Homo sapiens: one gene and its partners. The protein of the gene in region 2 purifies or fractionates together with the protein of the main gene of each other region. This does not show direct contact. Each region holds a gene or a part of one and is shown on either strand. Other genes may lie near its edges.

Region 1 (5,746 bases), on a different chromosome or scaffold from region 2:
TGAGTAACCGGGATTACAGGAACATGCCACAATGCCCAGCTAATTTTTTTGTATTTTTAGTAGAGACGGGGTTTCACCATGTTGACTAGGCTGGTCTTGATCCTCCCACCTCAGCCTCCCAAAGTGTGCTGGGATTACAGGTGTGAGCCACCACGCCCAGCGATGCCAGGTGGCATTCTAAGCTCTGTACATGTATTGGCACATCTAACCATCAAAATAGCCCCATGAGGGTGGGACTGTTATGATCCTCATTTTAGAGATGAGGAAAACGAGGTTCAGAGAGATTGAGACACCTGCCCTAGGTCACAGAGCCAGGAAGTGACGCCACTCAGGCTATGCTTGCTCTGTTGTCTCACCTGTTCATCACCACCTGACGCGTAATCCAGGACTGTCCCCTCTCAGTCTCTCCCGCCCTTAAAATGTGTGCTGCCAGAGAACAGGATGCTTACTATCTCATTTAGAGCTGTGTGTCCCCAAGGACTAGACTAGTGGCTGAGGGTAGTGGGACGTTTATCAGTACTTGTTTTCTTTTCTTGTTGTTTTGTTGAGACCAGGTCTCGCTCTGTCGTCCAGGCTGGAGTGCAATGGTACAATCATACCTTACTGCAGCCTTGGCCTCCCAGCTCAAGCTATCCTCCCACCTCAGCCTGCTGGGTAGCTGGGACTAGAGGTGTGCCCCACCACGTCCACTTAATTTTTGCTTGTTTGTTTTGAGACAGAGTCTCACTCTGTGCCCCAGGCTAAAGTGCAGTGGCACGATCTCGGCTCATTGCAACTTCTGCCTCCTGTGGTTCAAGTGATTCTCCTGCCTCAGCCTCCTGAGTAGCTGGGATTACAGGCATGTGCCACCATGCCTGGCTAATTTGTGTATTTTTAGTGGAGACGGGGTTTTGCCATGTTGGCCAGGCTGGTCTCGAACTCCTAGCCTAAAGCAATATTCCTGCCTCGGCCTCCCAAAGTGTTGGAATTTCGGGCGTGAGTCACCGCGCCCAGCCTATAAGCACTTGTTAACTGGACTTAGAGAGATGGGGAATGCCTAGAATCTTCTGCCCCCTCTTCCCCAGCCCCACCAGGCCGCAAGGAGTCAACTCACTCGTTTTTTGTGCCCTTCTGCCCGCAGAACTCGCCCCGGCTGTCAGTGGGGTAGATCACCTTTCGAGGGTCTCCATGAGTCCAGGCTGTGGAAAGATCCAGGGATACTGAGACACTGCCACTCCTCAGATCCAGCCCTGTTCCCACTCCAGAGGCCATGGCTGCCTCCGCCTACCCTGCAACTCCAAGTCCTGCTCATTCTCTACTCACCTATGATGCCTACAGCCACGTAGCCCACAATGGCCAGGAGCAGGAACACACAGCATATGATATCCGTGCAGCCCCTGGGGAGCAGAGGGGCAGTGTTTGGAGGAGGCTTGGTGCTGTGTGCACCATGGGCCCATCTGCCCTCTGCAAACACCCTCATCCATGTGTTATTTGGACAAATTTTCCTGAGTCGTTTGAATGCCGTACCAAAGGGCACATGCATTTTAATTTTTATTTCATTTCATTTTTTAATTTTGTGCAACAGAGTCTCACTCCGTCATCCAGGCTGGAGTACAGTGGCATGATCATAGCTCACTACAGCCTCGAACTCCTGGGCTCAAGTGATCCTCCTGCCTCAGCTTCCCAAGTAGTTGAGACTACAGGTGCACACCACCACACATTTTTTTTTTAATTTATATACATTCTGTAGAGACAAGGTCTCGCTATGTTGCCCAAGCTAGACTTTTTTTTTTTTTTTGAGAGGGAATCTCACTCTGTCGCCCAGGCTGGAGTGCAGTGGAACGATCTCAGCTTACTGCAACCTCTACCTCCCAGGTTCAAGCGATTCTCCTGCCTCAGTCTCCCAAGTAGCTGGGATTATAGGTGCCCGCCACCATGCCCAGCTAATTCTTGTATTTTTAGTAGAGACAGGGTTTCACCATGTTAGCCAGGCTGGTCTCGAACTCCTAACCTCAAGTGATCCACCTGCCTTGGCCTCCCAAAGTGCTGGGATTATAGGTGTGAGCCACCGTGCCTGGCTGTATTTTATTTTTTTGTTATTTTTTTTTGAGACAGAGTCTCGCTCTTGTCCTCCAGGCTGGAGTGCAGTGGCGCAATCTCAGCTTACTGCAACCTCCACCTCCCAGATTCAAGCAATTCTCCTGCCTCAGCCTTCTGAGTAGCCTCTGAGTAGTCACAGCTACTGGAGAGGCTGAGACAGAAGACGTGCTTGAACCAGGAGGGGAAGGTTGCAGTGAGCTGAGATTGCACCACTCCAGCCTGGGTGACAGAGTGAGACTCCATCTCAAAAATAAATAAATAAATAAATAAATATAAACATGGTAAAAATTAAGTCCAGGCCAGGTGTGGTAACTCACACCTGTAATCCCAGCACTTTGGGAGGCCAAGGCAGGTGGATCGCTTTGAGCTCACGAGGTCGAGACCAGCATGGGCAACACAGCGAAACATCTCTGCTAAAAGTACAAAAAAAAAAAAAAATTAGCCAGGTGTGGTGGTGCAAGCCTGTAATCCCAGCTACTTGGGAGACTGAGGTGGGAGAATTGCTCGAACCCGGGAGGCGAAGGTTGCAGTGAGCCGAGATTGAGATCGCGCCACGGCACTCCAGCCTGGTGACAGAGCAAGACTCCATCTCAAAAAAAAAAAAAAGTTTCAAATATTTGTCACCAGTTTGTTGGAGAACAGATGGGAGGGGGTGTGAAGAGACAGGGATTGGGGTAGTATTAGCGGGGAGAACCCCCCAAAACCCAGAGCTCTTACCTATTGTAAATGGGTCCTTTGAAAGTGGGATCATACTTCTGTGGCGTTCCTGAAAGTCAAGAAGATTAAGATGGATGGGATTGGAGACCTGAACCAAGACAGGGCTGGGAGAGCCCCCTCCCAAAAGCCCCTAGGGGTGTCTTTGCCTTGGCAAGAATAAAATTCAGAGACCTGTGGAATTTTCTGCCTCACCCACCTCCAGGTGACCACACCCAAGCCCCCAGTTCTGGCAGGCCAGGACAGGGGAGGAAGGAGGGATCACTAACTGTGAACAAACTTATTAACTGGCGGCCACCCACTGGGAAGAGGGCTGAAATGGTGACCACCACGGAACCAGGTGGAGATGGGGAAGATCTGAGGTGGGATAGGGGGAAGGAGGCGCCGGCAGCAGTGCCAGGCAGAGGGGTACAGGGGCAGGTCCTTCGGGTAGGGGAGAGTAAGGAGGGTCGTCTGCGAGGCTGCGGGGGATAAGTGGGGTGAAGGGGCCTGGCTGATGGTGGGGAGGCTCCAGGCGCAGATTTGCAATTGCGCTCCCCCTCCAGCCCCCTTCCCTGCGCCCCATGTTCTCTCAAGGCCCCCTCCGAGGGACCGAGGGGTCGGCCCGGGGCTACGGGCGGGGGTCGCTGCCTACCGTGTTTCCCGTAGTAGTGGGGCCGCTCGTCCCCCATCCCTGCAGGCGACCAGCCCCGGCGGCCGCCCGCGCTCTCTCCCGCGCCCCCTCGACCCTCCCGAGTCTGGAGGGAGGCACTGACCGCGCGACTGGCGGCGGCTCCTCCCAGCACAGCGCCAGGCGGGGCGGCCCAAACCGGTCAGACCGGCCCGAGCTGGGCAGCTGCCCAGACTAAGGGACCCGGGAGGGCGCGGGCGGGGCTGCAGCTGCTCCCGCCACTCACCGGCCGGCCGCATTTAGCCTTCCCCGCCCCCACCCGGGAACCCTGCGGCTTCACCCTGGGAACACCCTGCCACCGGGCGATGCCGCCTAGAACCCCTGGCCACCCTGAAAGGGCGTTTCCGTGGCTTCGTTTTGCAGGTGTGGAAACTGAGGCACTGGGAGGGAAAACGGCCTACTGCCCAAACCCAGACAACCAACTGTGGAATGTTGGTGCTGAAAACTTCTCCAAGCTGTGCAGGAAATTAGTTTTCTTTCTGTCTGCTGCTTTTTTTTTTTGAGACAGGATCTCCCTCTGTTGCCCAGGCTGGAGTGCAGTGGTGCAATCACAGCTCATCGCAGTCTCGACCTCCCTGCCTCAAGCCATCCTCCTGACTAAGCCTCCTGAGTAGCTGGGACTACAGGTGCTCTACTGCACTCGGCTAATTTTTAATTTTTTTTGTAGAGATGGGATGTTGCTATGTTGCCCAGGCTCATCTTTAACTCCTGGACTCGTGGGCTCCTCCCACCGTGGCCCCCCAAAGTGCTGGGATTACCTGCGTGCACTACTGGGCCTGGTCTTAGAACAAGTATTTATTCAGCCCTTAGTGGGTGCAGGCCTTGGGCGGGGCACCGCATACAGTGAGGAACCAGAGAGACCCAATCTCCACCCTTGTGGAGCCCACATCCTCCTGGGTCGCCCTGAATTCAAATGCTCCTTCTGCACCCTCTGAACTAGAGGATACTTAACAAAGGGCTTATCTTCCTTAAGCCTCAGTTTCCTCAACTGCAAAATGAGGCTAAAGTATGAAACCAAAACTGACCTCAAAGAGCAGGCATAGGCCAGGTGCAGTGGCTCATGCCTGTAATCCCAGCACTCTGGGAGGCTGAGGCAGGTCGATCAGGATTTCTAAGCCAGCCTGGCCAACATGGTGAAACCCCTTCTCTACTAAAAATACAAACATTAGCCAGTGTGGTGGCACATGCCTGTAATCCCAGCTACTTGGGAAGCTGAGGCAGGAGAATCGCTTAAACCCAGGAGGTGGAGGTTGCAGTGAGCCAAGATTGCCTCACTGCACTCCAACCTGGGGGACAGAGTGAGACTCTGTCTCCAAAAAGAAAAAGAAAAAAGAAAATAGGCTGGGTGTGGTGGCTAACACCTATAATCCCAGCACTTTGGGAGGCCGAGGTGGGCGGATCATGAGGTCAAGAGATCGAGACCATCCTGGCCAACTTGGTGAAACCCCGTCTGTACTAAAAATACAAAAATTAGCTGGATGTTGTGGTGTGCACCTGTAGTCCCAGCTACTTGGGAGGCTGAGGCAGGAGAATCACTTCAACCCGAGAGGCGGAGGTTGCAATGAGCCGAGATCGTGCCACTGCACTCCAGCCTGGGTGACAGAGCGAGTGTCTCAAAAAATCAATCAATCAATAAATCAAAAATTAGCCGGGTGTGGTGGTTCATGCCTGTAATCCCAGCACTGTGGGAGGCCGAGGCGGGCAGATCACTGAGGTCAGGAGTTCAAGACCAGCCTGGCCAACAAGGCAAAACCCTGTCTGTACTAAAAATACAAAAATTAGCCAGGTGTGGTGGTGGGCACCTGTAATCCCAGCTACTGGGGAGGCTGAAGTAGGAGAATCGTTTGAACCTGGGAGGTAGAGGTTGCAGTGAGCCGAGATTATGCCACTGTACTCCAGCCTGGGCGACAGAGCGAGACTCCGCCTCAAAAAAAAAAAAAAATACAATACAATAAAAATAGAGACAGGATCTCACTGTGTTACCCAGGCTGGGCTCAAACTCCTGGCCTTAAGCAATCCTCCCACCTCAACCTCCCAAAGTGCTGGGATTGCAGGCACGAGTCACCACGCCACAACCTGCCTCTACTTGAATATTTATAGATATTTATAGTGCAGCCAATTATTTGGTTAACATGGCATTATACAGGTGGTGTGGAGGTATCCTCAGCAGGAATATACATTTAGTGCTGGGTGTACACAGACAGCATGAGGTTATACAGTCAGCGTGATCATATACATTTGGTGTCCAATAATTGTAGCTGCTGCCTTAGACTCTAGGACTCG
Region 2 (4,482 bases):
AAAAAAGCCAGCTTGTTCACAGGAAGGGGAGTAATAAGAGAAAACTCTGGGCCCCAGGTCCCAGCATCTTGCTAGGTGGTGAAGCTGGAATTACTCACCTGGTGTCCTTCTCTGCCAGCCCCGCTGCAGGCTGATCTGAGAAAGCCTCTGGCCCAGGGCAGATACCGCCATGGCCTTCCTGATGCACCTGCTGGTCTGCGTCTTCGGAATGGGCTCCTGGGTGACCATCAATGGGCTCTGGGTAGAGCTGCCCCTGCTGGTGATGGAGCTGCCCGAGGGCTGGTACCTGCCCTCCTACCTCACGGTGGTCATCCAGCTGGCCAACATCGGGCCCCTCCTGGTCACCCTGCTCCATCACTTCCGGCCCAGCTGCCTTTCCGAAGTGCCCATCATCTTCACCCTGCTGGGCGTGGGAACCGTCACCTGCATCATCTTTGCCTTCCTCTGGAATATGACCTCCTGGGTGCTGGACGGCCACCACAGCATCGCCTTCTTGGTCCTCACCTTCTTCCTGGCCCTGGTGGACTGCACCTCTTCAGTGACCTTCCTGCCGTTCATGAGCCGGCTGCCCACCTACTACCTCACCACCTTCTTTGTGGGTGAAGGACTCAGCGGCCTCTTGCCCGCCCTGGTGGCTCTTGCCCAGGGCTCCGGTCTCACTACCTGCGTCAATGTCACTGAGATATCAGACAGCGTACCAAGCCCTGTACCCACGAGGGAGACTGACATCGCACAGGTACCCAGCATCACCCGGAGCCATCTCAGCACTTGGCTTTATCACAAATGTAGGGGAGGGAAAAACTGCTCACCTCCATCCTTCTAGGTTCTTTGGTCGGCCTATGAGTTAAACTGACATAAGGCAGATCAACAGCAGGAAACTCATTTTAATTACTTACATACATACGCATGGGAGTCCCCAAAAAATATGAGACTCAAAAAAGGGCCAGATGATTTCAGCTTCTATAGCATCCTGAGCTACAAAAGGGAATAGGGGCTTGAGGCTACTGCAGGATGGTGGAGACAAATTATGGGAGAGTGAAGGGAGGAAACTTATGGTGAATAAACATTGCACTGTTATGCAGATAAAAGTTCCTCGGGTGATAAAGGCCATCACCTTTCTCTTCCTGGTTCAGATACCCCTTCGTGGTACAGATACCTTTTCTTGGTACAGATAAGATAGCTTTACTAATAAAAATTTCCTTTAGATGTAAATTTATCTTACAAAATGGCAACTTTTCAGAGCTACTCCTTAGCCTGCAATTTTTCAAAATAACCAGCTAGAAATAAAAAATATGCCAATAGGTCAATTTTGGGGTGGCATATTCTGGCCTCCTACAGTCATATTTTGGGATGGCATGTCCTGAAGGCCCTTATTTCCTAGACGATGGGTGGAGCAGTGTTCTTCCTTAGGTGGGGGCTCTCCCCTTAGGTGGGGGATTCTCCCCTTAGGTGGGGGCTCTCCCCTTAGGTGGGGGATTCTCCCCTTAGGTGGGGGCTCTCCTCTTAGGTGGGCGGCTCCACTGCTCAGTCTCCAGCTAGCTCCTCCTCTGAACATGTTTGTGGTTGCCACTGCTGTGGGGTGATAAAAGGTGTAGCTTCCAAGTCAGAAAGCACCAGGTGGAGTCTGGCTTTGCCACATTCTCCCTGTGACCCTCAGGTAAGGGACGAAGCATTCTGATACCTCAGTTCCCTCTAAAATGGGGGATGATGGTGCCCACTGTGCAGCCCTGTTAGGAGGCATAGGGGCTTATCCATGCACAGTGCCCGTGCTCAGTGGGCAGTCAGTATGAGCAGTCATTATTGCCACCTTGTTAGTTATGTTTATTTATTCATTATCCATTAATAATAACAGGTGATCTGTATTCTGTTATCACTGTCATGATTGTTGTTCTGCAGCCTGATCCCCTCCCCTGACCAGGGATCTGTCTTGTCCTTTGCAGGGAGTTCCCAGAGCTTTGGTGTCCGCCCTCCCCGGAATGGAAGCACCCTTGTCCCACCTGGAGAGCCGCTACCTTCCCGCCCACTTCTCACCCCTGGTCTTCTTCCTCCTCCTATCCATCATGATGGCCTGCTGCCTCGTGGCGTTCTTTGTCCTCCAGCGTCAACCCAGGTGCTGGGAGGCTTCCGTGGAAGACCTCCTCAATGACCAGGTCACCCTCCACTCCATCCGGCCGCGGGAAGAGAATGACTTGGGCCCTGCAGGCACGGTGGACAGCAGCCAGGGCCAGGGGTATCTAGAGGAGAAAGCAGCCCCCTGCTGCCCGGCGCACCTGGCCTTCATCTATACCCTGGTGGCCTTCGTCAACGCGCTCACCAACGGCATGCTGCCCTCTGTGCAGACCTACTCCTGCCTGTCCTATGGGCCAGTTGCCTACCACCTGGCTGCCACCCTCAGCATTGTGGCCAACCCTCTTGCCTCGTTGGTCTCCATGTTCCTGCCTAACAGGTGTGCCCTCATCTGGTCCTAGGGAATCCTAGTGGGGGAACACTTCATTTCAGAACCCAGAATTCCAAACGCACCTACTGGGCTGTACATGTAGTGGTTAAGAACATGTTTGGGGAGCACCCTGGTCCAAATCCCAGCTCTGCCACCTGTCAGCTGTGTGTAAGACAAGTCACTTCAGTTCTCTGTGCCTCAGGGATATTTATCGGAAAATGGGAGTGTAACATTCCACCTCCTAGGACTGCTGGAAGCATGATATGAGCTGATTCTATAAAGCTCTTGGAGCGGTGCCTGGCACGTGGCAGGTCCAGCCTAAGCGTTGACCATCATTGTCATCAGTCCATGAGGAGGAGCAGATAGCCACTGAGGTTCCCGTTTATAAGGGGAAACCCTGAGGCTTGGAGAAAGAGCTTGACCTGGTCTAATTCCCAGGATTTCGGCCCTGCCTTCCTGCCTCTAACCTCCTGCTGGTTCCCTTAGAGCCACAGTTCTAGAAGAATGGCTGGGCAAGTTGATAAAATGCAGATTGAACCAGCCTAGACTGGGACCTGGGATTTCAATTTTTAGTAAGGAAACCAGACGGTTCTGAGGCAGGGGCTTCAGACCCCTGTAGGAGAACTACCACCTTGGGATCTTGACATTTGAGGTGGGTCCTACAGCCTCGTATCCACGCTGGCCTGCCTGTCCTCACTGGCCTGCTTACACCCACTCTCCCAGCCCAGAAGAAGGACAGTGAGGACAGAAGAGCTTGACAGAAAGCTTGCCAGGAAGCTGGATTTTCTACCTTGGGACCTAGAAACTGGAAAGAGGATGGAGGATTTGAGGGAAGCAGGACCAAAGGCTCAGACCTGCAAATCCAAGAAACCCCAAATGTTAGAATTACAGAATCTGAGTCATGGAATCCAAGAATCTTGGAGCAGAAAGAGTCTTTAAGGGTATAGGCAGACCTCTGTCTGTTCTTACCCAGGGCGTGGACCAGTCTTGGGGTTCTAGAGATTGGGACCCCAGGGACAAGGACCTGTGAGGAAGGACAGTGGTCCCAGATGTAGGTTTGCATGGAAGGCCACCTGTAGAGAGATGCTCCTAGCAGCAACAAGCCAGCTGCCAGGACCCCTGGAGATCAGCACACTCCACATTGCAGAGGCAGGTAGCTGAGGCCAGAAGGGGAGGGGTCTCCTGAGGAGGCACAGCAAACCCTACTGTGCCAATGCCCGATCCAGCCATCTTCACTTCAACTCAGCTTCCTGGCTGAGGCTGAGGGTGTGTTGCAGGAGGAAATGCCAGCAGGTAAACACCAGGTGGGCCCACAGCGGCGCCAGGCCTGCATGCTCTGCTCCTGGAGGTCATGCAGCCTTGCAAAACTCCGATTTGGAGGCTCAGAGGCGAGTCTCAGCTTAAACAGTAGAACTGGGATTTGAACCAGGACCATCCGGTGCCAGAGTCCATTATGTTTTTCTTGCCGGGGTGCCAGGCCCTGCCGTTAATGCTGGGGATGACTCAGGCCAGCCCTGCCTGCTCAGGAGCCTCCCTGACCCACTTGAGCCAGGCAACCTGGAATTTTCCACATGGGTCTAAACTAACTATGGAGACACTGGCCATCCACATGCCGCCCAGTGGGGCGGGGGGGTCAGAGGTCAGGCTTCTCACCTCCACTCACCTCCCCTACTTTCCTCTAGGTCTCTGCTGTTCCTGGGGGTCCTCTCCGTGCTTGGGACCTGCTTTGGGGGCTACAACATGGCCATGGCGGTGATGAGCCCCTGCCCCCTCTTGCAGGGCCACTGGGGTGGGGAAGTCCTCATTGTGAGTATCCGGCCGGTGGGGCTGCTCCCGCTGCGTACCCCTCACCCCTAGCCAAGGCCTGGGAGAGCTTGGGCGCGGCCCTTTCCAGCGAGCGGGGTCTGTGGGACCCTCCCGGGAAGCCCCAGGTGGGGGAAGCGCCCCTTCCTCATTTGGGAGTGGAGGCTTAGGGAATCGAGGTGACTGGTAGGCCTCTTCCCACCATGTGTACCTCAGCAGGGGCCTTCTCTCAAGGGCCCTTG
Region 3 (5,022 bases), on a different chromosome or scaffold from region 2:
AAACTAACAAAGTACATTTTGAAAGTAGACAGGATGTAAACAATGAAATAGTGATGTTACATTAATATAATAAAATCAGATGAATTCATAATGTTCATTAATTTATTTTCCAAAATTTGATTTCTCTAGCCTGTGACTGGCCAATCAACATGATTGGTTTACTTATATGAAAAAAACAACAGTTGGCTTAGGCTTATGATTTTAGTATTTTAAAACATTTTTGCTAACACAGTAATGAGTCCAAAAGCATTTCTTTATCCTTTTTACATAGCAAATCCTTCTCTTTGACATCAGGGTGAAGGTAATTATATTTTTCACTAGGGAGTAAATAAGAACTAGTTTTATGGTAAACATTTTTGGTGAAGAATGACTGTTCTTGATGTTCAGGTTACCTGTTACTGGGTAACACGCAGAAATTTAAAAAATGTATTGCCTTTGTTCTTTATTCTTTTTTGTTCTTACAGCCTTTAAGACCTATATGAAAATGTTGTATTTCTAACTGTTAATCACTTGACTAAAAAATAGTATAGTACCATCCTGTATAAGCTGTATCTTTTCAATTTCAAGTCCCTCCTTCATTGTACATATATTTTAAAGATGTAGGTGTACATGGGATTTATGTTTTTAGTAGTACTTTGAAATTTTAAATCTCTGAAATTACTATAAATTTTAAAAAATTACTATAAAATTTAAAATATGAAATTACTATAAATACTGAAATTACTATAAATGGTTTATTTATTAATTGGAAATACTTCCTGAGAAAATACTTAAAAGGCTATAAAAAACAGACTTAGATAATCTTTATTTGATATGCTTACTAAATGATAACATTATTTACAATTTGTAAGCATTTTTTATTTTTGCCACAGCCTAGGATTTTTAAGCTTATATAGAAATTACCAACAAATAATTGGAAATCTTTACTTATAAAGTTACAAATACTTTTAGTTAGTATTAGATTTGAGAGCAAGTCTGCATTTAGTGGAATCATTTTTAGTTACATCAGATTCAGTTTGCAGACCAGTGGAAACAGGGTGGGTAAACACAAGCTAATTTTTAACAGTTTTAGAGTAGGTTATATTAAACACTTTTTAAAAAGTAATCATTTGAGGCATTGTTTTAGGTGCTAAAGTTATCTGAAGTAACTGAAGAAAATTAGATTGATTTTTTAAAAAACCTTTTAAAATTAATGAAGTGTGATGTCTAGAGTCTAATCAAGGAAAGGATAACTGTGTCCAATATCATCAAATTCTGCCTTCCATCTGCCTGTTCATATTCCCACACCACGGAGAATATAAAACTGTCTACCATGGCCACTAATAGGAACTGTTGAAATGCCACTTTAAGGTTCATTTAGCTGTTCTCAGCTCTCTGTTGGGAACTGAATGCTAGAGCATCTAGTTTGAAAATAAAAAGACTCTAATGGGGGTCTTTATGCACCTAGTATTTTTGGCAGTGATTAACAGTAGGGGGTGTACAGAAGGTCAAAAGCTCTTCTTTTGGAGGTCAGCAGAACACCCCCATCTGATAAGATTAAACTAATGTGGCTTTTGGTGTTAATATCTGAAGCAGCGGGTTGCTGTAGTGTGTTTGGGATGGTAGTTGTGGTTTTGAGAGATTATGAAAAAAGGACTGACGTGAAATTTCTAATAAGAAAATGTGTGATTCAGACATACAGCATTTACTGTTTCTTGCGGGGAGTTTGAAACTGGTTTTTGTTTCTAAAAATACTCCAATTTTTTTTTTGCTATTGCATAAGATGATTTTTTCTCAAATAATTTATATATGTGTATGCTGTGTATGCCATTAAGTGTTTTTATTTTTCCTTTGTGCCATTTTTAAGTGTTAAAGATTATTTGAAGTAAATCATTATGAAACTGAAGATAATTTATGATTTTCAAATTCAGGTGTATGAATTCGGTTAATATATTTATGTTCACTCCATAGTTTTCTGATTATTTTACTGGATATTTCAATGGACAGTATTGGCTTTGGTGGATATTTCTTGTACTTGGTAAGTTTATTCTTAATGCATTTAGTTTAACTTGGATATTTCCAAAAACTGTAAGATGTAAATAAACTGTGTTGCAATTTATGTGGAAATTATTTTTCTTCTGTAAAATTCTCATATTCAAACACATCATCTCACGTTTTTAAACTATTCTATATAGCACTACAGATTTCTTAGATTTAAAATCCAGAGGCTATCAGTGTAAAGAGTCAGTGGCGGGATGATAATTGAATGCTAAAAAATTTTAAAATAACAACGTGATAAAAAATTGTCTTTAGCATTTATCTCAGAAAACATACACAAATGACTTCTTTTAATGATCTTAGGAAATTTGAGAGTTGGATAGTTTGGTTGTTCTATCTGTTCTCTTATTTTTTGATCATGGAAACATTCTTTATGCTTTTGAAATGTGCCTTGAATTAATCATTAATCAGCCAGGCATAAGGAAAGGCTTTATGCCTAATGATCACAGTGCTTCTGTTGAGTTGTCTTCCTATAAGACGTGTCTTTTTATTAATATTGATGGAATTTTATGGATTTTCAATTTTTGTTCCCTTTTGTTTTTTACCTTCAATGTGAGATAATTAAGTTAATCATTAAATCACATTATATCTTTAATCCACATTTCAGATGTATTTGCTGACATAAGGAATACCTTTTGTTTCTAGTTAAGAGTAAAAGCCCATGTTTCACTCAGAATTTTACCAGAAAATAACAGCATTTCAGTAGGTGGCAGTCTTCTCTCTGAGTTTTTATTTAGTCATACTGTTGGATCTTTAGGATCTTTTGGGAAACAAATTATTGTTAGTCAGATAAGGTCACTTAATTCTTTAATAGCTATATTGAAATTATTTTAGTGTTGTGACTTTGTTGAGATGCATCTGGAGGTGAAGCCAGTTTTATATTATGTGTTCTAACTGCCTGAATGCCGTGTTCTTTATTGAGTTTCTTACCTAAAAGTGAGAAGGTTTATAAAGTCTATTAAGTATTTAAGCATATTAAATGAGTACATTTGTGTGTATATATATATTATTTAGAGATTGGAGGAATCTTAAGGAGGTTAGTGTGGGGCAGAGTAGAATACAGAGGACAATGCCAGTTCCACTTCAGAGCCATAATCTAGTGTTTATTTATTTAGGGGAATGTGAAAATGTAATCAGTGATAAAAATGTTGCTCTCACATATGCTGAAAAGAATGTTGAGCACTTTGTAGAATGCTGAGAAACAGTAGCCACTGAGCGATTGGTTTTTAGGTATGAACTGGGTGGCTTCTTTTAGAAAATGCCTGAGAAGTAAAATGTGTGTTAGAAAACAGCAGCTTTAGAGACAAAGGAAGGGATCCCACAAATAAGTTGGTTTACATTTTTCAATAATATTTTTACATTTGGATAACAGTATTATTATCTTTGAACAGCATCTGGAAGGGCATGAGGGTGGAATTCAGAAGGAGTCCCAAAAGGAGGGAGTTAGGATATGGGAAGCAGATGCGATTGGGTTTAGCTGTAATTTATACCATTTAAGTCATCATTTGTATCTCTCTTCTGTCTTTCCTCTCCAATTTACTACACACATGCTTCTTGTTTTTAGTGATTTGATTACTGTCTTGCAGTTGGGGTACAAATTTAGTTTGAGACTTCATATTTTAAATTCACAAACTCCTTTTCCTCCTGGTGAGGAAAGTCATACACATACAGTAGATATCTTCTGTTTTTGTTTTTGGATCCCCCCCACCCTGTTTTCCTGGTTAAAAATTTGCTGGAGTTAATAAATGTTTCCCTAAGAATCATATGCTTAAGTATTTCAAAGGCTTATACTAGTAATGGTAATGTTTTATACTTATCTAATATTTTTTATGTGAAACTTTAGAGAATTTTACAGGTATTGCTTTTTAAATTATTAAATATATTTGTGGTTGTTATTTTAAAATACTACTTTACAAAGGAGAAAACTGAGGTAGATATAAGATGTATCCCAAATAATCTAAATCATTAGAGTGACTGTCTTCCAAGTTGTCTTTTCTAACTCATCTTAATTTTTTATTATAAGTTAGTTTTTTATTATTACTTCAAAATAAGAACTCATAATTAAAAATATGTACATAATGCACGTATCTTCAAATACAGATTTCACAGATGACAGGCACTTGATATTACTATACAGGCTTATTGTTTTTTTCCTCATAATTGTTAGTAACCTCATGTATATATTTCCTTTTTATCTACTTTATATAAATAAATATGTCTTAGTTCACCCAGTAGTTATATTAATTGAAAAGATTGAGCCCATGGGTTCAATGGGGTTTTTATGAGTTGAATCAGTTTAAGTGCGTCAGGTAACTTTACTATTGAAGAAAATCACTTAAATGTATATTTTTATGTAATTCTGGATTTTTATAGCTAGATTTGCTTTAATTTTGGTACATCTAGGCTTAACAAATTGAAAAATTGTATTTCCTTGTGACAGAGTTTATCCTTATAGTGTAAAATATATTACAGAAATGAATGGAAGTCTGCAAGTAAAATTCCTTAAGCCAAGAGGATCTTGTTTATAATTGTCTACTTTAAATTTATCTTGCCCTTTTCTGTATAAAAACATAGTATATCCATATTATTTCAACCTTCTCAGGCCTGCTCCTTTTCTTCAGAGGATTTGTTAATTATCTAAAAGTCAGAAACATGTCTGAAAGTATGGCAGCTGCTCATAGAACAAGGTATTTCTTCTTATTGTAGAGGTAAGAAATATTAATCTGTGAACTCTGCCTATTCCCTTTATGTATTCAAATTTGCCAGATACATATTAAATGCCTAATGTGTATTCATGATTTTTACTGTTAGCATATTTAATATTTTTTAATACTGCTAACAGTCAGCTTATTGAAATTTGATAAGTCATAGACCTTTTTAGATAACTTTTAGATTTTTAAAATTGAATTTCATAAATTTTAATTTTTAAAATACATAGCGAGTGAACTGAAATTTTGAATCAGACTTTTAAAACTTCTCTTTAAA
Region 4 (4,865 bases), on a different chromosome or scaffold from region 2:
AGCTGGTGGTGCTCATCTGCCTGGGGCTCATGGGTTTGGAACGGGCACTCAATGTGTTGGTGCCTATATTCTATAGGAACATTGGTGAGCAGGAGGAGCACCAGCTCAGTGTGCTGGTCCTTCATCAGCCTGGTGGCTGGGATGGTCCTTACCTAGGGAGGTGGGACAGAGCTGGGTGGTCAGAAAGAGACTGTGGCTGGTACCTGGGGCCATTTTGCCTGAAGAGAGTCCTGGGCGCCATAAGTGGGTTCTGACTCGTTTCCTCCACAGTGAACTTGCTGACTGAGAAGGCACCTTGGAACTCTCTGGCCTGGACTGTTACCAGTTACGTCTTCCTCAAGTTCCTCCAGGGGGGTGGCACTGGCAGTACAGGTATGAGAGACTCCGCCCTCACCCTGCTAGGTATAGGTCCCTCCCACAGGCATTCCCTCAGCATCCGCCTCTCCCAGCATTCCTCCCCAGCCCCCATGTACTCTCAGACCTTTCACATCCTGGTGCTGGGCTGACGTCCCTCAGCTCCCAGGCCCTACTGAGGCGTCCCCCGGCTCCCTGCAGGCTTCGTGAGCAACCTGCGCACCTTCCTGTGGATCCGGGTGCAGCAGTTCACGTCTCGGCGGGTGGAGCTGCTCATCTTCTCCCACCTGCACGAGCTCTCACTGCGCTGGCACCTGGGGCGCCGCACAGGGGAGGTGCTGCGGATCGCGGATCGGGGCACATCCAGTGTCACAGGGCTGCTCAGGTGCCGCCCCAGTGGAAAGGGCATGTGGGAGGGTGGAGCCGGAGAAGCAGGGATAGGGGCCCGTGGGAGGAAGAGAACAGACCCCGCCTGAGAAGCTGCCGCTCCCACCTTGGTGTTTTTTAAAGTATAGGATTATTGTATACATGCTCTCCTAATAACTTAGGTAATGCGGGCAGAGGGCAAATCTCTTTCGAGCTGCACTTACTTTTTCAGAGCTTCCCACTCTGTTTAGTATGTTGGGTTCTGCTCTTTTTTTGAGACAGGGTCACGCTCTGTCACCCAGGCTGGAGTACAGTGGCATAATCTCTGCTCACTGCAACCTCTGCCTCCCGGGTTCAAGCAATTCTCCTGCCTCAGCCTCCTGAGTAGCTGGGATTACAGATGTGCACCAGCATGCCTGGCTAATTATTAGATTTTTTGTAGAAACAGGGTTTCACCATGTTGGCCAGGCTGGCCTGGAACTCCTAGCATCATGTGATCTGCCCACCTAGCATTCCAAAGTGCTGGGATTACAGTTGTGAGCCATTGTGCCCAGCTGGGTTCTGCTTTTTTGCATTTTTACATACATATTATATATGCAGACTCACAGAACTAATATGGCATTGTGGAGGTTTTTCCTAAAACAAATGGTATTGTGACATAGCCATCATTCTCAGAGTTGCTTATTAACAGAACATTATGGAGATATATTTTTCTTCCATGCCTGAAGGTCTCCCTCATTCATTGTAATTGATACAGAGAATTCTGTAGTTTGAGCATGGTTGATTTAGCCACCCACCTCTTGAGGGTAGAATTAATTAAGACTGGTTCCAGTCTGTTGCTTGAAAATAAAACACTACCCTGAAATGCCTAGAGGCAGGGTTGCTGGGTCTAAGCCCCCAGACCTTTCTTATTCACTTGACCTGCCCTCCTAGCTACCTGGTGTTCAATGTCATCCCCACGCTGGCCGACATCATCATTGGCATCATCTACTTCAGCATGTTCTTCAACGCCTGGTTTGGCCTCATTGTGTTCCTGTGCATGAGTCTTTACCTCAGTGAGTGCTGCTGGGAGACACCGTCTCCCTGAACTATCCAGGGACTCCCTTGGCCATGAGCTGTGCCCCCACTCAAGTGACCCACCTATGGGAGGCTGTGGATTGGTGGACTTGAATGGGCTCCTAGTGCTCGTCATGTGATGGGCGGGTCTCTTCTGTCAAATCAAACCTTAACCTAGCTGAGGGGCTGGGGAAGGACATTCTTGTCACGTTAAGTCTGAGCCGTGGACACAGGTCAAGGAAGCCTCGTTTGTGTAACAAGATGCAGCTTGCTTTCATTTACCAAAAGCGTTTTCTACACATGAGACTTTGTGCAGGCTGCAGAGGTGCCTCCCTGTGGAATCTGGGTGTCCGGGCTTGAGCATAGGCTTAGTGTGTACATGGCAGGTAGTGGACATTGACATTTGGTCTCTGCTTTTGGGGATGATGTCCTATTCTGCTCCCCATCCTGTCACTCTCCAGCCCTGACCATTGTGGTCACTGAGTGGAGAACCAAGTTTCGTCGTGCTATGAACACACAGGAGAACGCTACCCGGGCACGAGCAGTGGACTCTCTGCTAAACTTCGAGACGGTAACAGAGGGCCCGGTGGCAGTGGTGTGAGGCGTGGAGATGTGGAGGAGTGTAACCAGGACCACTGGGGCTGACAGAGAGCTGGGGGTGTGATGTTTGTGTGTGATGTTTGAACTCAGGAAGGAGGATTGAGAGTTGGGGGGAATGACCCGAGTGCCATGTGCTGTGCCCATGCCAAATAAATTTGGTTTGAATTCATCAGGTGAAGTATTACAACGCCGAGAGTTACGAAGTGGAACGCTATCGAGAGGCCATCATCAAATATCAGGTGAGGATGCTAGTTTGAGGCCTCCGGAGAATAATGCCCTGGCCTGGTAGAATTTTCAGGGCCAAGAGTGATAGTCGAGTGTTGGGGTAGAAGGGGCCTGGGCCCAGGTTTGGACTCACTGATGGCCATTGTGTATAGGACATTCCTCTTCCTGTGTTATTGCCCTCAGGGTTTGGAGTGGAAGTCGAGCGCTTCACTGGTTTTACTAAATCAGACCCAGAACCTGGTGATTGGGCTCGGGCTCCTCGCCGGCTCCCTGCTTTGCGCATACTTTGTCACTGAGCAGAAGCTACAGGTGAGGCAGGATCTTGGATGAGAGAGTGGGGCACAAGGAAAAGGGGGCCTGAGGCCTGTGTCTGGTCACCAGGCTCTTCGGTAGGAAGTGGGCAGGGTGACACAAGAAGAGCGGCCTGCAGGCCCCCCGTGACATGCTCTGCTTCCTTGATTGCCACAGGTTGGGGACTATGTGCTCTTTGGCACCTACATTATCCAGCTGTACATGCCCCTCAATTGGTTTGGCACCTACTACAGGTAATCTGAGCCCTGGCCCTCACCTGTCCAGGGCACATTATTATTTCCTGGCTACTCAGAGAAGTCCTAACCAGCACCTTTTTGCAGGATGATCCAGACCAACTTCATTGACATGGAGAACATGTTTGACTTGCTGAAAGAGGAGACAGAAGTGAGCGAAGGGAGAGGAGTAGGGTTTGGGGAGGGAGGAGCTGTGTGGTGTTTCTCGTGCTTGGAAAACACAAAGCTGAGAACCTCAGCACACATGGGTGGTGCCCTTCCAGGTGAAGGACCTTCCTGGAGCAGGGCCCCTTCGCTTTCAGAAGGGCCGTATTGAGTTTGAGAACGTGCACTTCAGCTATGCCGATGGGTGAGGCCTTCCTTTTGCTTCCTTTGCTTTTCCGTTCATTTGCACACTGCCTTCCTGCTTCTCAGTGCTCTGAATCCCTGCTTTTGGAAAAGAGCCTGGGCAGGGGAGGGGCAGGGCCTACTAGCAGCTCTGGTGATGGAAGGTGCCTGCTGAGCAACCCCACCTTTCCTTGCAGGCGGGAGACTCTGCAGGACGTGTCTTTCACTGTGATGCCTGGACAGACACTTGCCCTGGTGAGAGGAGACCCAGCCACTTGGCCCAGATGCCTCAAGCTTCCCTCATTCAGTGCCCATGGTAGCTTGTGACCCAGGCTGTGGAGTCAGAGAGCCCAGTCACGATAGGCAACCGGATTGAATGGTGCAGCCTCCATGGACACTGGTGACCTCTTGGAGAGGGAACCTCAAAAGCCAGTGGGCCTCGGCCGGCTGCGGTGGCACATGCCTGTAATCCCAGCACTTTGGGAGGCTTAGGTGGCCAGATCACCTAAGGTTAGGAGTTCAAGACCAGCCTGACCAACATGGTGAAACCCTATCTCTACTAAAAATACAAAAATTAGCCGGGCATGGTGGCGGGTGCCTATAATCCCACTACTAGGGAGGCTGAGGCAAGAGAATCGCTTGAACCTGGGAGGCAGAGGTTCTAGTGAGCTGAGATCGCGCCATTGCACTGCAGCCTGGGTGACGGAGTGAGATTCGGTCTCAAAAAAAAAGCCAGTGGGCCTGAGATTTTTCCCATTTCCAATGCAACAGGTGGGCCCATCTGGGGCAGGGAAGAGCACAATTTTGCGCCTGCTGTTTCGCTTCTACGACATCAGCTCTGGCTGCATCCGAATAGATGGGCAGGACATTTCACAGGTAGGGTTGCTCTGGAGAAGACGGTGGTTTAGGGGTCTACGTGTGGAGGAATGATAAGGGCTGGCTGTCCAGAGAGAGGAGATGTCACCCTTGCAAAAAAACTAGGGCCATTCTAGCATGATATAACCTACAGTCACACAAGTAAAGTAGTCATGTTAAGGATTTGTATGGTGCCATAAAAGCTACAAAGGGCTGGGCGCAGTGGCTCATGCCTATAATCCCAGCACTTTGGGAGGCCGAGGCAGGTGGATCACTTGAGCCCAGGAGTTCAAGACCAGCCTGGGCAACATGGCAAAACACCCTCTCTACAAAAAATACAAAAATTGCTGGGCGCGGTGGCTCACACCTGTAATCCCAGTACTTTGGGAGGCTGAGGTGGGCGGATCACAAGGTCAGGAGATCGAGACCATCCTGGCTAACACAGTGAAACCCCGTCTCTACGAAAAATACAAAAAATTTGCTGGGCGTGGTGGCGGGCGCCTGTAGTCCCAGCTACTCGGGAAGCTGAGGCAGGAG

What was found. The genes of interacting proteins can lie anywhere in the genome.
Region 1: the proteins of SLC52A3 (region 2) and SLC44A2 purify together in Homo sapiens (affinity purification with mass spectrometry; one large-scale study listed by BioGRID and IntAct). This does not show direct contact.
Region 3: the proteins of SLC52A3 (region 2) and NDFIP2 purify together in Homo sapiens (affinity purification with mass spectrometry; one large-scale study listed by BioGRID and IntAct). This does not show direct contact.
Region 4: the proteins of SLC52A3 (region 2) and ABCB6 purify together in Homo sapiens (affinity purification with mass spectrometry; one large-scale study listed by BioGRID and IntAct). This does not show direct contact.

The regions. Positions count from the first base shown.
Region 1 is NC_000019.10:10,623,352-10,629,097, reverse strand, and holds the start of SLC44A2 (choline transporter-like protein 2), read right to left. Parts: upstream 3,546-5,746; 5' UTR 3,465-3,545; coding exon 3,428-3,464; intron 2,846-3,427; coding exon 2,797-2,845; intron 1,377-2,796; coding exon 1,303-1,376; intron 1,179-1,302; coding exon 1,094-1,178; intron 1-1,093.
Region 2 is NC_000020.11:761,462-765,943, reverse strand, and holds part of SLC52A3 (solute carrier family 52, riboflavin transporter, member 3), read left to right. Parts: exon of another isoform or gene 1-118; 5' UTR 119-169; coding exon 170-736; intron 737-1,940; coding exon 1,941-2,446; intron 2,447-4,119; coding exon 4,120-4,243; intron 4,244-4,482. UniProt on the Homo sapiens protein: Plasma membrane transporter mediating the uptake by cells of the water soluble vitamin B2/riboflavin that plays a key role in biochemical oxidation-reduction reactions of the carbohydrate, lipid, and amino acid metabolism.
Region 3 is NC_000013.11:79,546,378-79,551,399, forward strand, and holds part of NDFIP2 (NEDD4 family-interacting protein 2), read left to right. Parts: intron 1-1,950; coding exon 1,951-2,017; intron 2,018-4,639; coding exon 4,640-4,743; 3' UTR 4,744-4,745; intron 4,746-5,022. UniProt on the Homo sapiens protein: Activates HECT domain-containing E3 ubiquitin-protein ligases, including ITCH, NEDD4, NEDD4L, SMURF2, WWP1 and WWP2, and consequently modulates the stability of their targets. As a result, may control many cellular processes.
Region 4 is NC_000002.12:219,211,871-219,216,735, reverse strand, and holds part of ABCB6 (ATP-binding cassette sub-family B member 6), read left to right. Parts: coding exon 1-84; intron 85-270; coding exon 271-372; intron 373-555; coding exon 556-739; intron 740-1,653; coding exon 1,654-1,775; intron 1,776-2,237; coding exon 2,238-2,347; intron 2,348-2,549; coding exon 2,550-2,615; intron 2,616-2,784; coding exon 2,785-2,910; intron 2,911-3,069; coding exon 3,070-3,146; intron 3,147-3,233; coding exon 3,234-3,297; intron 3,298-3,409; coding exon 3,410-3,495; intron 3,496-3,670; coding exon 3,671-3,728; intron 3,729-4,244; coding exon 4,245-4,349; intron 4,350-4,865. UniProt on the Homo sapiens protein: ATP-dependent transporter that catalyzes the transport of a broad-spectrum of porphyrins from the cytoplasm to the extracellular space through the plasma membrane or into the vesicle lumen.